Regions from separate parts of the Homo sapiens genome. Here region 1 is linked to region 2. A link means that fine-mapping ties the variant in region 2 to the expression of a gene that starts in the linked region. Tissue or cell type: transverse colon. Region 2 holds a variant in brackets; the other region holds the start of a gene. All regions are shown on one strand. Distances are from middle to middle.

The links. PIP is the estimated chance that this variant, and not a neighbour inherited with it, causes the effect.
Region 1: it holds the start of OSBPL5, and the variant in region 2 is fine-mapped to the expression of OSBPL5 in transverse colon (GTEx, PIP 0.97).

Annotation. Positions count from the first base shown.
Region 1 is chr11:3,161,510-3,169,599 of GRCh38, reverse strand. OSBPL5 (oxysterol binding protein like 5) reads left to right here and starts at 4,290. Exons shown (of 22, transcript NM_020896.4): 1 at 4,290-4,384. RefSeq lists enhancers at 3,096-3,808, 5,552-6,245.
Region 2 is chr11:3,123,230-3,131,319 of GRCh38, reverse strand. It overlaps OSBPL5 (oxysterol binding protein like 5), which reads left to right. Exons shown (of 22, transcript NM_020896.4): 2 at 2,151-2,307; 3 at 4,765-4,847. The coding sequence starts at 2,172. Among named protein-coding and RNA genes, the nearest start is that of OSBPL5, 38 kb to the left of the region's middle. RefSeq lists a silencer at 6,587-6,881. The variant C/T (reference allele first, on the strand shown) is at 4,547.

The DNA of each region.
Region 1 (8,090 bases), 38 kb before region 2:
GTGGCAGCCGTGTCCAGCCCCGAAGGAGGGAACAGCGGGGAGAGCCTGCCTCCTGTAACCGGAACGCTAGCTTGGCTTCCAGTCCTGCCTGGGACGCTCCCCAGTGGCCAGCCTGGAGCTGGTGGCTTCACCTCCTTGACTTTCCACTTCGGCGTCTGTAAGCTGGGGATACTGATAACCACAGGCTTGCCGGCAGTGCGGGGGATGCAATCCGGTCACGTGAAGTTGAGGACGTAGTGCCAGGCGCATGGCAAACGGTCCATACATGCTGCGATGTTTTCATGATTAGCTTTGTGCTGTGGAGACTATCTGGACGCTTTGAGTTTCACTGACGCCCCACCGCCTACGGGAGATGGAATCTCCTCCCCCTGCCCGGAAAGGAAACAGAATGGGCTCCCACCAGAGACCACACCTGGCGGTGGATGTGCCTTCAGGGCAGCAGGGAGGGCAGCAGAGCCCAGGCTCACCCCTGGGTCTCCCCACTGCAGCCCAGGGAAACCGGGCAGGTGTCCCACTAGGAGTCGGAGACCCACCAAAGTCCAGGTGCACCCCTTACTACTGGGGCCTCGGTTTCCTCATCTGTCTAATGGAGAGAAGTGGTTATTGCTACCTCAGAAGACTGAAAAGGGCCGGGCGCGGTGGCTCATGCCCGTAATCCCAGCACTTTGGGAGTCCGAGGAGGGTCGATCACAAGGTCAGGAGTTCAAGACCAGCCTGGCCAAGATGGTGAAACCCCATCTCTACAAAAAATACAAAAAGTAGCCGGGTGTGGTGGCGGGCACCTGTAATCTCAGCTACTCAGGAGCCTGAGGCAGGAGAATCGCTTGAACTTGGAGAGCGGAGGTTGCAGTGAGCCGAGGTTGTGCCACTGCACTCCATCCTGAGCGACAGAGTGAGACTCCGTCTCAAAAAAAAAAAAAAAAAAAAAAAAAAAAAGGCTGTAAAGGACCAAAGGAGATAACCGATGACAGTTTGCCGGCCCTGACCTGCTTAAGGTCTCTCCCTAGGGGGCCACACCCAGCCCCACTGGCTCCTGTAGTGGCTGAAGCCCTGAGCAAGGCTTCCCCGGTTGGTGGCACCTTCTCTGGATTGGGCCCAGCGCTGTTCCCACATGTCCTGGCCACCCCAGCCCTTCCCAGGGAGGCAGCCAGATGTAGCAGAAGGGGCAGGGGCTTTTGCGGGGGGGTTTCCTCTGAGCCGGTGGGTCTTCATTATGAACCAGGTGGCAGAGCACGGCAGATCAGAGCACAGTTCTGGAGCCAGAGAGGTTGGTGACTGCCTCGCCTGCTGTGCCTCAGCTTCCCCATCTGTGAAATGGAGCCAATCACGACAGAACCAGCTCATAAAGTTGTGAGGCAGATTAAATGCACCAAGTGTCTAAAGCCCTCAGAAAAGGGTCTGACACGAGAAAGGTGCCCACAGCCATCTTATTCACCCCTCAGTCGGGGTCAGGAGAAGTAGATGAGATGCAAAGAACCTGGGACAGGGTAGGGGCTCCATCAGCAGGAGGCCTTGGGGGCTTAGACCAACCACCCGAAACCAAGGAGTGATGCCAGCAGGTGGACATGTATTCACTTCTGGGGCAGGGATTCTTGACCTCAGCATGACCAGCATTTGGGGCCGGGTCACCCTTTGTGGTGGAGGCTGTCCCGTGCATGACAACGTGTTTAGCAACATCCTCGGCCTCTACCCACTAGACACCAGTAGCAACCTCCAATGACGACGGCCAGAACTATCTCCAGGCAGTGGCAAATGCCACCTGGAAACTGGAGGCAAAACCGCCCCTAGCAGAGAACTGCCATTCTGGAGACTTGGATTGGAACTGCCCTGATTTTAAATTGCACTGTCCTTGCAAAGCATTTTTTAAGTTCTTACTTATCACAGACATATTTTTCTGAATTACCATAAATTCCAAACTAACCAGCTGGGCGCTGCAAGCCGTTCCTTCCCATAGTCCACTCATGGTCCCCAGTGCCCACCAACAGCCAGCGCTTGCAAAGTCTGTTGGCCCACTGGGGACTTATGGCAGCTCATGCAGCGGAAACTGCTCTGGTCATCGCCATTTATAGATGAGGAAACTGAGGCACGGCCAGTTGCACAAACCTGCTCAAGGGCTCCTGGATGGTGGGGCCTACTGGGCGTGCCCCCCTAAAGCTGGTGCCATTGGCACCTGGCTCTGCCCATCTCTGAGACCTCTGACGCCTTCATTTCCTGCGTTGGCCACCAGGCACAGATGCTGTGTCCATCTGACAGGAGAGGAAGCGGGGTCCCAGGAGGAACAAGCCACTGCCTGGTGACAGAGCTTCTTTCTGGCAGCAGCAGGATTCGGACCTACCTCTTGCTGGGGGCAACCTCTTCGGCTCACTGCCTCTCCAAAACCAGGCAAGAGGCTGGAAATGGGGCTTTCTGGAAAAATGCAGAGCCTGCTGGGAAGTGGGGCAGACAACTGACACCTGTCACTGAGCCTGGCAGGTGGCGTGTTCTTCATTTCTTGCATGGCCATCTGGCTGTCAGACACTACCCAGTGAGAGGCTCAACCCTCGTCCTGCTCCACCCCAGCCCCACCCTGCTGTCATCTATGGCCCCTTCCCCCACCCTCAGGTGCCTCTTTGACTTTTGACCTCTGCCCTCAGCAGTGTCATTTCATGAAACCCAGGCCCTGGACAGCCAGCATCAAGCAACTGGCAACCTTCCCTACTGCCGCCCCTGAGACCTCCGCCCTAGGGATAGGGGCTTTGTTTTCTTCCCTAATTCCCTTTGGATTGGCTCCAGCAACCAGCAAGTTACCAGGCAGCAGCACCTCAGCTTTGGGCGGAGTCTTCAAAGAGCAGACCCAGCAGTTGTATGTGGATCCCAGCTGCACAGACCCTCTCCTGCAGAGGCAGAGGCCGCCTGCCACAGGCCACGCGGAGCAGGGTCCCACCATGGCCCTGAGCATCTTGACTGAGCAGTTCTGCATCCCAAGGCCTCACAAGGTGACTATGGAATGGCAATGCTAGCCCTGGGGGTAAGCTTAGGGCAAGTCCGATCAGCCCACTCGCCTCCGTAAGCCGTGGGTTCCTGTGATCCGCACACAAGCGGCTGGTGCTGCTATCCCCAGGAGGATACCCACCAACTTGTCTAACGGGGTGGGCAAGGCCAGGGCTGAGACGGGAAGGGGTCTGGCTTGTTGTGGGCAGAGCACCTGCATGCTGTGCCGTTCCCCCTTCAGGTGCTGGAAGGAGCCTTCCTGGGCCGCTCGCCCTCCGCAGCCCTGCTGGGAGGTCTTGCAGACGCCCATGATAGCCAGGCTTGCGGCCTCCCGAATGCAACTGCAGCGTGAAACCGTAGAAACACACGTGTCAGTGGCAGTTCTGCCTGGGGAGGAGCCCAGGGCTCTCTGCGGAGGGTCAGTTCTGTCCCTGTTAAGGTTCTGTGTGGAAAAGACTCCACGCCCTCTTGGGGTCTACCTACATCTGGGGATGCCCGAGCCCAGCTCCCAGTTTTTCTGGTCATTTGGGGACATACCATAGGAAGGACCTGCAGTGCACCTCAGGCTTGGACACTAGGGATGCAAACGCCCTGGGGCCAGCCCTGGGCCCACACCCAATTTAGGGTCTACAGGCAGGGAGCCAGGGGCCAGGGGAGGACTTCTCAGCTCCCAAGGGGATGCTGTTTAGGGGAATTAGAATGTCTTTTATATACAAGAGAACTGAGGGGTCTAAAAAGGTCTCTGGGGGGTAGAAGAAGGTGAGGAGAAAACACAGGAAGAAATGCACATGAGGGGAGGTTCTTGTCAAAAGGGTCCTGAGAAAGACGTACAGTTAGAGTGTGACTGAGGGTCCTTCTTAGCACATAAGGGGCAGGGACAACGGGCTCAGATGTCTGGGGCTCCTCTTGTGTTCTGATGGCTCCTGAGACGGGGAGAAACGGCGACAGTTTCCTGGGTTCAGGAAGGGAGAGGAGGCGCCTCGCACCCTGGCTAGGGTGGGCTGGGGGCCTGCACCCCTAAGTTGGAGAACCCCACGAAGCTGACCCCACTCACCGCTGCCCACCCCGCCAAGCCTCCTGGCCATTTTCAGCGGAGTGTCCCGACCTCTGGCCGCCCGGGTGGGTGTGAGCCCCGGAGCGCGCGCGGGGGGTTGGGGGATGAGGAGAAGCGGCAGCCGGTGGGGGGCAGCCCCTGGGCGCCCGCTCCGCGCGGCGATTCGGCCCGGGTTTTGCGGCCGCCGCGCCTCCTCCTCCCGCCTCCGGGCTCCCTGGGCCTCCTCCCTCCGCCGCGCCCTCGCTCCGCCTCGCGCGGGGGGACCATCTGCTGGCATTTCCTGCAGCCAGGCCCGCGCCGCCAGTGGAGCCCCCGCGCGCCCGGCCGGCCCGGAGCACCGAGCTCGCGGCACGGTAGGAGGTAGGAGCGCGGCGGCCCGGGGGGCGGCAGGGCGGCGGGGGGATGGCGGGCTGGGAAGGATCCGGAGGGCCCCGCCGGGCAGGGCCGGAGCGAACCGAGGGCCGCGGGGGGCCGGCCGAAGGGATCCAGGAGCTCGCGCCGCAGCCCCGCGGACCCTGGCAGTAGCCAGTGCGGGGAACCACGCCGCGGGGCCGGTCGCGCGCTGGGGAGCTGGGGAGCGCGGGAGCCTGGGGGCGCCCCGGGCCAGGACGGGTCGGCGCCTGGCGGGTTGGGGCGGGTGGGGCCCGCGAGTGGGAAGCGGCGCGCCCAGCTCGGCTCCCCACTTGGTGGGGCTTAAAGGAGCCGGGACCGCCAGGGAAGGTGGCTGGGTCTGACCACCACAAACCCTGGCCAATCAGGGGGTCTGTCCCCCCAGCTCGGCCGACGCGGGCTCCAAGGAGCCAGGTCTTGATGGGTCTGCAGGGGGTCTGGGATCTGAGTCTGGCGTCCCAGCTGCGGGCTTGGGAGGACTGCTGTGTCTGAGTCCGCAGAGTCAGGGGGCTGCCTGGATTACAGGCTAGGGAAGGACCTTGCCCACAGCCCCCATCTCTGGGGCACTGACCCCCTGAAGATGTGGAGCCTTAGGGATTGTTGAGGTGCCTGAGTCCTCAAGAGGGTCTTGTGCACTTGAAGATTCCTCCCGGGGAGCGGGGTGCAGGAGGGTGGGGCAGGCAGGAAGGAGGCTGGAGTCTGCAGCCCCCCGGGCAACAGGCCCGTCCTGGGCTTCCCAGGCACCGCCCCCAACCCCCACCCAGACCGCTGGGCTGCCTCCTGTCAGAAGCCAACTGGAGTTAGGGTTTGGGGTGACTCCTGGGGGTATGGAGGGGTCACAGGGTGGGCTTACCTGCCCCTCCCTCGTCCCTGGGCTGAGCCCAGCCCCTCCCTCATCCTTGGGCTGAGCGGGTCTGCCCCGCCGAAGCGGCTGGGTGGATTTCCTCTCTTGCCGTTTCGCAACTTGCTCCCCTCTGTGTGTCTGCCCCAGTCTCTTCAAGGTGCCTTTTACAGGAAGACTTCTGTAAGGGTCCCACCCCACCTGATACAGCCTCCCAAAGCCTGGAGAAGTGGGCCAGCCTTTGGGATCCTAGATAGATGCTCTTGGGTCTGCCTGCACCAGGGCTGATCCAGATCCCAGACTGAACAGAAACTCTGCTCCCCAACCCCAGGAGTAAGGCCCCTCTGCACGTTTTTATCCCACCTCCTTGGTACACAGGGCCTTGCTGTTCCTTGAACCTGCCAGGTGAGTGGGGGCTTTGCAGGCATCGGGCAGGTTTGTGGCAACCTGGGGTGGCATCATGTGCCCAGCTGCTCCCTTCTGGTCTCAGGCTCCAGAACTGCAGATCCTATTGTCTGCCTGCACGCGTGTGGGGCTGGCCTGGGGTGCCAGGAGGCAGGCACCGCGTGTGTCTGTCTTGCCAGGCTGTGTTTAAGAAAGGTGACACAGCAGATAGGCCGGATGAGGAGCCTCTGACCTGCAGTCCTGGGCCTGGTCTCAGAGAGGCTGCCCTGCAGATGTCGAACCCCGGGCAGCCATCCTGCATGTCCAGTGGAGGCTCCTTTCTGGGTCCAGATTGGGCCATGAATAGGCCATGTTCTTCAAAGGACTGCTTTCAGCTCTTTACAGAATACCAACGCAAGACCGCCCCCCCCACCCAACCCCTACCCAGGATTGTATTTACTATGCTGAGAATGCCTGGTATCAGTTTCTCTCCTGAGATCCTGGCCTCACTCTGAGCGCTGATAGTAATCTGACATGTAACGCTTGGGGGAGGGAGAAACACTCTGTGACAAGCCGGCGGGTGGAAGGGCTGTGTGTGTCTCTGCCAGCTGTGTTTTGGGGACTGGTGCTCTCTGCTGATTCTGTGGTTAAGCCTGCACACGTTTGCACACATACAGGCACAGTGTGCAGGTGGAAAACTTACCCAAGATGACAGAAGGTGCCCCCCGCCCCCATTCCCATTTATTGTTCAAGGGACAGGTGAATCTGAGCCTGTGACCGCAGCTGAGAAATGTTGTGGACCCAGCTCAGGGTTCTCCCGGAGAGGCCTGGGGAGCTGGAAGCTCTGACCTCCGGGACAGGGGGTTGTAGAGGGGCCGAGGCCCAGGGTTGCACAGTGCCAAAAGGATCCCGGTCATTTTGACAGGAAGGGAGCTGTCGGGGAGGGAGCCGTTAGGTGCAGCTCCCCTTGTGGAGTCCAAGGGCCAGGTGGGTAGAAGTGCCCACCACTTGCAGGGTTGGCAGGGGAGCCCAGGGAGTGCACCAGTGTGCTGGGGGGTAGATGTTGGGGGGTACAAGTGAGGGCCACTGGCCTCCCGACAGGGACAGGCATGCTGCCCTGGATGTCCTCATGCTGCTTGTGACCGGCACAAAGGAAAAGAATATTGTTCTCGATGCCAGCTTTGCTTGATGACTTACCGAGCCTGCAGCTTGAGGAGGCAACTGACAGCCTGAGGATGGGGCTCCTGGGCTGGTCAAGATTTTTAAAGGTTTTGGGGCCTTGGTGGCTGGGTCTTGGCCACGGCTGGGTAACCTTTCCCGTGGAGATGTATGGGCAGATAGTGAAGCTGCTCCGGAGAGTGGTAGGGTTGGCGGTCGAGTACAAAGGACTTGGACTAAGGACCGCGTTGTTCTCTTAGCATCACAGTTGTTCTGAGCCAGGGCCTCTGGGATCATGTCCACGAGGATGTGAGATTGCCTTGTGCTGGCATCTACACTAAGCGGAGTGGGCACCAGCTGTGTCCTCAGGACCAGGGCTTGAGGTGGGAGATGGGGAGGGGGTGGGACATGAGCCTTCTTGGCTGGCTTAGAGGGATCCAGAATTCCTAGAGGGCCTTTGTTGCAAATCTCAGAGCCACCCAGGCTGAGAGCAAATGCTTTGCTCGGCCTCCCAGCCCACCTCACATCCGGCTACTCCCTCCAGGGCTGGCCTCCACTCCCCTCCTGGCCCTACCAGCTCTTGCCTGGAGCTCCACATCAGCTACCTAGTAGGCTCCCCTTTCGTGGCCTTCCTAGCCCTTCTCCAGCCAGCAGCCAGCATGGTGTTTAAAAAGATAAACCACTTCATGTAATTTGACCACTTAGAGCCCTTTGAGATTTGCCATGGGTCTCAGTAAGTCCTGACCCCTTTCCAGACCCCACAGGCCCTAGATGCCCCTCCACTCTGTCTCCCTTCCCTTGTTCTCCTCTCCCCCTCCCCTCCCCTCCCTCTCCCCTCCTTGCTCACAGGGGTCTGGCGTCAGCCCCGGCTTCTTACTCCAGGGCCTTTGCACTGCCTGTGCCTCTGCTTTCGGCCCCTCCTTGGATCTGCATTTGGTGGGCTCCATCTAATTCAGGTCCCAGCTCAGATGCTGCCTCTCTGAGAGAGTCTCTGTTCCTGGCCCGTTACCCATTCCAAAGCAGCTCTCAGCTCTGTGTTTTGTTTTCTCTTTATTTATACTGAAATGGTCATGTTTGTTTAATTGAATGGCTTCCTATGGAGAAAGCGATTGGGCCAAGCCAGGTTCATGGTGGGCGCCGCTGGTGCGTGGCATCTGTCCCTGGTGGGTGCCGCTGGTGCGCGGTGTCTGTCCCCATGCACGGTTGCCTGCAAGTCTGCTCCGGGCTCTCTTCCCAGGGGCTGGCACACAGTAGGTGTTCTACGGTTAAGTGAGGCACATGTGGAAAGCCGTC
Region 2 (8,090 bases):
AGATGGAGGGATACAAGGGAGCGGGAGACTGGTGTATAGATGAGACTGGTGTATAGATGAGTGGATGGTGGCACTCACAGACTAAGAAGTCCCACTGGCTGTCATTGGTGCTGGGAGAAGGTATGTGGGGTATCTGAGCAGAAAGGTACCAAGATCCCCTATGGCCTTTCTACCTTGGCCCAGGTGGAACTGGAGCAGACAGCCAGACAGGGCAGCTGAGGCTAGGTTTTGAGCCCCTCTCCCTGCCCCAGGAGGTTCCAAGTGAGGGAGACCTACCTGGGAATCGCTGTCACCACACTGCCTGGGACATTCCGGGGCTCTCTGTGGGTCCTGAGAGCAGGATCGCTGCTCACTTACCTTGGCTGCCTGGTGCCCAGCCCAGCCTGGGTGCTCAGAAAATCTCAGCTGTCTGAGTAAGCCCGGCCTCCGCTCAGCTGCTGGTTCCCATCCTGAGCTGCACCTGGGCAAGTAGGACGTGTTTGTTGTGATTGACAAGTAGGGGCAGGACTTCCCATCTGCCTGCTTCCCTGCGGCAGGTTGGCTGAGCCAAGCTGAGACACTGAGTGGGCAGACACTCAGCGGCTGGGTTTTAGGATCGGTTCCACCTGGCTTAAGGACGGCATTGCTGATTGTTAGCTCTGTGACCTGGGCCAAAACGCCAGCCTCTCTGAAGCCAGCTGCCCTGTGTGTAAGATGGCCAAGGTCATGAGCCGAGCCAGGGGCCAGGTGAGGGAGGGGCTGGCCCAGCCTGGCTGCATCCTTGGAGCCCCTCCCCACTCTGACTTCAGGACTGGGGGCACAGAGGGGGCTCTGGGGTGGTGGACAGAAGCCCCCAGGACCACAGACACCCTGGGCCCCCAGCCCACTCCTGAAGCCACAGCAGGAAAGTCTCTGTGTGTCTGAGGCCCCCCCCAGCAAAGCCCAGGACCATGGGAGAAATCGAGGCCTTTGTCCCGGGCTTGGCAGGATGCCACTGGCCTGCCCTGAGGCAGCAGGAAGCAGCCCCAGAAAATTGGGAAAGGAGGAAAATTGACCAGTAGTTTTTAAGGAGCTCGCCCTTGGGAAGTGGACACAAGATGAGAAGCTGGAGGGGATGCTCTGCCAACCCTTGTCAGGTCACGATTACAGGTCGAGGCCTTCCACTCCCTGAGCCATGATTTTCTCATCTGTAAAATGGGCTGAGACCTCAGTGGATCTGGCGCCGTCAACTTCAAGTGCCTGCAAAGGCGTGACTGCAATCAGTTACCCTCTGCTTGGCCCAGCACTACTAGGTGTAGGGCTGGTGGGGAGCAGGACAGAGGGGACCGCCTGTTGTCCTCTCTCCTTCCAGGGGAGGAAACAAGAAACTCGCTTCTGAACCCACAGGGGAAAGGCAGGTCTGCCAGTGGGCGGGGCTGGGAGAGCGAGGCAGGTGGGTGTCAGGGCCTGGCTGTGGGGCCTCCCTCTTTTGTGAAGCAGCAAGGAAGCTCCCACTGGGAATGCAACGTCTTGGGCTGGGCGTGGACGCAGGTGTGCCTGGCTGTGAGCGCCCAGAGCTCCCTCTCTTGCTGGGGTGCATGTGGGTGCAACTGAAACTGTTGGGGCACCCAAGCTTCAGGCGGGCTTAACCAGAGGCGAGGCGCTCCTGGGACCCTTAGATGGATGGCAGGCCAGGCTCCCGGACTGCCCAACACCGTGCCAGCCACTCCCTGGTGCTCAGCGGCCACCTGGTCTCACCCCCGTGCATCTTCTCCATGGAAGCTCTAGACCCCTCCCCACCACAAAGTGCTGTCACGTGGGAGGGAAATGCGGGAGGGAAAACCTGTGTCTACACGTGGGTCTGCCTGGCTGCAGCCAGGGTCTCACAGAACCTGGGGTGGGGGTTCTGAGAAGGACATCTTCCGAGGGTGGTGATGAGCCTCTCTGACCAGGGCTCCGTCCAGCCCTACTGCCCGGCGTGGAAAGGGCTGGCACCAGCCAAAGCCATTCGCCTGAGCTGGGCTGTCCTGGCTGACCACCCACCACCAGGCTCCCAGGGCCCAGGCCCTCCTCACCCTGCCTCAGAAGTCCCCTGAGAGGGGGACTTCTTAGCCAGGGGCACCCCCACCATGTGGCTCTGAAGCCCCTTCCGGGGCGGTGACCTCCTGCTGCCCCTCCTTCCTTCCTTCCAGAAGCCCCCGAGCGCCCACAGCATGAAGGAGGAGGCCTTCCTCCGGCGCCGCTTCTCCCTGTGTCCACCTTCCTCCACCCCTCAGAAAGTCGACCCCCGGAAGCTCACCCGGAACTTGCTCCTCAGCGGAGACAATGAGCTCTACCCACTCAGCCCAGGTAAGTGCCGGCCGTGGGCAGGGCAACCTGGCCCTCAGCTTGGGCCCGGTGGGGTGACCCCGGGCGGCCCAACCCCTCTGTGCCCCTTGAGGTCCACAGCTTCCATGCTGGGGACTGTGTGGGTTTCATGATCAAACGGTTTGTAGCTTGGTAGAGTGCCAGGTAATACGGCTTCTTGGCTTGACCTGCGGGGCCAGGTGAAGCCCATCTGGTTGAGGAGGGGGTTCCCACAGCCCAGGCTTTGGGAGTTATGGAGTGCAGTCATCCCAAAGTCAGCCCAGGCTTTGGGAGTTATGGAGTGCAGGCTCCAGGGACAGGTGGCCTGAGCCCCAGTCCTGGCAGGGTAACCCCAGGCCAGCTACTTGACCTCTCTAGGCCTCAGTTGACTGATCTATAAAATGGGACAATATTAGTACCTACTCCCAGCTATACATGGGTCCTGGGCTCTGAGAGGGGACAGCTGGAACCAGGCCTGCCTTCGTGCAATTGTAGATAAAGCACCCAGCACACAGACTCAGAACCTCTGCCCGCCAATGCTGCCACTCTCCAGGCCCCTCCCTGGCACCTAACTATGCACAACCCCTGCCCCAGCCAAGGCTGAGCTGTGACTGCTGTCCCCCAGAAAACCCAGCCCTTCCTCCCCTGTTCCCCTGAGAGTAGGAGGTAGGGGCAGGCACCTGCCTGGGGGACCTCTCCCCAGCTCTGCCCCCTCTCCTCCCACTGCCTGCTTTGGGGCTGAGGAAGTGGGAGCCCCAGCCCTGCCTGGCCATGGTCATCTCATCTGCCCTGGGGGGAGTGGGAGAGCATTGGGCGGATCCACCACCCAGGCTCGAGGGGCGTGTGGTCGCAGCCAAAGTCCCATCCAATAGATGGAAAAACGGAGTCCCAGCGTAGAGGTGGCCTTGCTGAAGGTGCTATGGCAGGCAGGGGCACTCGACACCCGGCAAGGTAAATCCTACACCTTTTATTCTCTGCTGTCACGTTCACCCTGGCCGGAGGCTTAGAAGCACTTGCAGAGTCAGGGGTGGGGAGGGGAAGGGCTGGGTCCCAGCTGCTGGTCAGTTTCAGAGGGACTCGGACCAACTAGCAACTGGCCCAGGCGGTGCAGAAGACGTGCTGGGAAGGGCCTTTTCCGAGGAATGGAGGCGGTAGGTCCCAGGCCAAGGGAGTGGGGTGGGTGTGGACAGGCTGTGAGGAGAAGGACCAGTGCTGACTTCCCCCTGCCCAGGGCACCTGCACCCTATCCCTTTGAGTGGTCCAAGGGCCCCAGCCTTTGAGTCCTCCCGGCCAGGAGGCAGCATCCACATGGAAAGTAGTTTGCTGGCGGCCACAGGCCAAGCCCCTAGAACTATATGAGAAAGTGCCAGAGGGAAGAGCGCTCCTGCTAGCCTCCCCCCAGCACTCCGGGTCAGGGGCGTAGCACTCTGCAGATGGGGAAGCAGAGGCTCCCAGGTGGGGGAGCAGCCACTGCCGGCCAGGGTCAGCGATGTTCTGTGACTGTGAGTGGCCACGGTCCAGGACCTTTGGACAGAACCACTTCCTCAGGCCACCGTCCTGGCTTTTCCGTTCTTCGTCCCCATCCAGTCCCTGCCCAGGGCTGTCAGGGAAGGACGGCTATAGACCCCAGGCCTTCCAGCTGGTCTGTGGCGTCTGTCCACGCACCCAGCCTGTTGCTGGCCTGTCGCCTGTGGCCTTGGCAGGATGGGGTTCACTCCAGCCCCCAGCCCCTCCGAGTCTCAGTGTCAGGGACCGGGGCAGTCAACCCTCGCCCACCAGCCACAGGAAGCAGCGGGAGCGGCCCTGCTGGGCAGACCTCAGGCTTCCCCTGCAGCCATCCCCTCCTTCCTCCTGTCCAGAAATCGTACCTTGGGAAACTGGCACCAAAGCAAACAGAGCCGGGGGAGGGGAGGCCATTTCCCAAAGGAGCAAACGCAGACACCTCAGGTCTCCCTCCTTTGCCTCTCCCTCCTTACCCAGCCTGCCAGGGTGGGATGGCAGACAGGGCTGACCACCTCCCAGCAAGAGCCCAGCACGCAGGGGCCGGCAGCATCCAGCCAGGGGGATGCACAGTCCAGGGGCCCCAAACCTGCCATGTGTCTTTGAGACTGGATGTCACATTCTTTTTCTGAAAACTGGGGACTCTGGCCTTCACAGACCCCCAATTGCACACTACAGCAGGCCCAGGATGCCGGTTCCTACCAGCTCCTGTCCCAGCTTCCTCCCTGTAGGTCCTGGAGGC[C/T]CTGCCAGTTCTCCTGGCACACTCCTCCCACAGTGACGCTTGCTGGCGTTTATTACACCTCTCAGGCAGTGTCCTGTTCCTGCCACCACCTCCGGCTGACTTCCTGCCCCTCCCAGGTCATCCGCACCCACGCTTCGCCTGCCTCACACCAGGCAGCGGCCTGAGAAGCCTGGCCACGCCACCATGCCTGGGTCCTCACTCCCACTGCTCTCTTGCAGGGAAGGACATGGAGCCCAACGGCCCGTCGCTGCCCAGGGATGAAGGGCCCCCGACCCCAAGCTCTGCCACGAAGGTGCCACCGGTAAGAGCCTGGGTATAGGAGGATCCATGAGCCAGAGCCTGGCTCTGGGGACAGCAGGAAACGGCTGGGGAAAAGGACAGCAGGGCGTCCAGCTGAGCCTGCCATTCCAGCCTGTTCGGGGGAAACAGCTCCCAATCCTAGACTGTGCTGCTCCGGGAGGGCTGCTGGTGGATATTTGGGCTGTTTTCACCATATAGCTGTCATGAAAAATGCTTCCGTGAACATGTGTGCACGTGTATTTGACTATCAGTTTTCAGTTCTCTCAGGTATAAACCTAGAGTAATTGGAATTGCTAGGTCACATGGTAATTCCAGGATAATATAGAACTCTCAAAATTGTCTGTTTAACTTTTGGAGGAACTGCCAAACTCCTTTCCCAGCGGCTGCACCATCTTACATGGCCACCCACAGTGCACAAGGGCTCCAGTTCCTCACATCCTCACCAACGCTTGCTATTTTCTGATTTGTTGTTTTCTTTTTTCCTTTTTCTTTGAAATGGAGTCTCCCTCTGTCACCCAGGCTGGAGTGCAGTGGCACAATCTCAGCTCACTGCAAGCTCCGCCTCCCAAGTTCACGCCATTCTCCTGCCTCAGCCTCCCGAGGAGCTGGGACTACAGGTGCCCGCCACCACGGCCGGCCAATTTTTTGTATTTTTTTTTTTTTTTTTTTGAGACGGAGTCTCGCTCTGTCACCCAGGCTGGAGTGCAGTGGCGCGATCTCGGCTCACTGCAAGCTCCGCCTCCCGGGTTCACACCATGCCCCTGCCTCAGCCTCCCGAGTAGCTGGGACTACAGGCGCCCGCCACCACGCCCGGCCAATTTTTTTGTATTTTTAGTAGAGACGGGTTTCACCGTGTTAGCCAGGATGGCCTTGATCTCCTGACCTCATGATCCACCCGCCTCGGCCTCCCAAAGTGCTGGGATTACAGGCGTGATTTGTTCTTTTTTGTGTTATTTTTATAGCTATCCTAGCGGGTATGAAGTAGCATCTCACTGCGGCTTCAGTTTGCATCTCTAATGACGGATAACATTGAACATCTTCGTGCACCCATTAGCCATTTGTATGTCCTGTTTGGAGAAATGTCTATTCCAGTTATTTGTCCATTTTTGGAATGGGTTGTTTGCCTTTTTGTTGCTGAGCTGCAAGAGTTCTTTATGCATTTTGGATACTAGGTCCTTATCCGATACATGATTTGCGACTACTTCCTCCCATTCCGTAGGTGGTTCTAAATTATATTTTTAAGGAATTTTCATAGGTTGCAAAGTTCTGGTCAGCCTGAAGTTCACAGTTCTGAGCAGCACTTCTCATCTCTCAGGTGCCTCCTTATGGCACTGTCACTGATGCACAGTAGCACTGAGGAGTGAGCAGAGGACCTGGCATGCCTGGACGGGGTACCCACCTGGCCTGCAGGAGGGAGGAGTGGGCAGGCACTCTCTGCAGTGCTGGGGCTGCAGGGGCTGCAGTGACCAGACCCAAGGGTCCTGCCCAGTTGGGGAGCAGGGGTTGCAAGTGCTCCATCCCATGCCATGCGGTCTTGCCTCTCTCTTCCCCTGTTGCCTCAAATACACACAGCCCCATTCAGCTGCATCTAGTGGGAAGCTGGGCAGAGGGGAATTGGCAGCAGGTTCATGCGTCCATCCATCCATCCATCCATCCATCCATTCATCCATTCATTCATTCGAGATGCTTGCTAAGCCCCCAGCTGCCGGTGTGAATGGGCAGTAGGGTAGAACCCTCCCCTGGTGGAAGCCACAGACAATCATCAGTTCACCACAGAAACGGCTGCGTGGTTGTATTGCAAAAGTCCTGGGCGGGCCAAGGGTGGTGTGTGTCACCAGGACCTGTGCCAGCAGGGATATGAGCTGTCCTGCTTCTGGGGAAGCAGCTCAGGGAGCCTGAGAAAGAAAGGAGCAGGGGCTACCCAGCCACAGGGAAAAGCATTCCAGGCTGGGAACACCATGTGCCAAGGTAACTAAGGGCATCATGAACAAGATCCTGGCTCAGGGGACTCCCAGGAGGGCAACTTAGGACACCTTCTCTGCCAGCCTGGGTCCCTGGAGGCCTGTCAACTGGCCAGGGTCCAGCATATGCCTCGTCACTCAGATCTGCCTCCTCCTTATCACTCATCGTCAGCCCAAAGACTGCTTCCAAGTCAGAGCCCCCCAGGCACCCCATCTTGTGCCGTTTTCTTCTTGTGATCCTGAATGCTCTTACTTGGCTAAGAAAGTGCCACAATGGAGCAACACTGCCTGGGTTCAGTCCCAGCTCAGCTCCTTATTAGCTGTGTGACCTTGGGCAGGTTTCTGAACCTCTCTGTGCGTAGGCTCTTCCTCTGTACAATGCTGAGAATAACAACGATGACCTGAGCTGTGGGATCTAACGTGCTTACATCCATGCACAGAACGCAGAACCGCAGCGCTCACCTGACCCCTGGCTCCTCCCGCCTCTGCGTGCTGGTGGCTGGTCTGCCTCTCCCTGAAAGAGCAGGACACTGGCATCTTTACTTTCTAACCTCAGTGCCTAAGGCCAAGCCTGGTGCCCAGTGCTGCCAGGACCGCCAGTCCGTGGAACGGTTCCATGCCCTGCCCCTTGCTAGCTCTCCACCTCTCTGTGCCTTGATTTCCCAGGCACAGAAATAAAATAGGGACAATAACCGGCCCCACCTTATGCATGGCTGGAGAATGAGGGGGATGAATACAGGCAGCACCCGAACAGGACCTGGTGCCCCAGCAGACAAGGCTTTAGCTCTGTACTTAGCACCATCATGATTGGGGTGGGGGCAGTCCCCAGCGCCCAGGGCTTCTAGCCAGGAGAAGGCCTGAGGGAGGCTTTCCTCGCCCTAGAGGCTCCGCTGGAAAGTGCTGAGCACCCGCAGACGCCCAGCCAGAGCAGGGCAGGGCGGGCACGCTTTCTCTGGAAAAGGCCAGACGGCATTTAGGCCCCGCCGCGGCGCAGGCTCCGTTCCAGGTACTCAGCACAGCCATCCAAGCACGAGAACAGCCACAGACAACGCCTGCCGGATCGCCTGGCCATGTGCCAAGAAAACCTTATTTATGGACTCCTCATTTGAATTTCATATAATTTTCACATCTCACAAATTATTCTTGTGATTTTTTTTCAACTGATTAAAACTGTGGAAGCTGTTCTTAGCTTGCAGACCACGCGGAAGGAGGCAGCAGGCAGGATTCGGGTCGTAGCTTGCTGTCCCCAGCCTGCAGGCTTTAGACCTGGTTCTGTGTCCCAA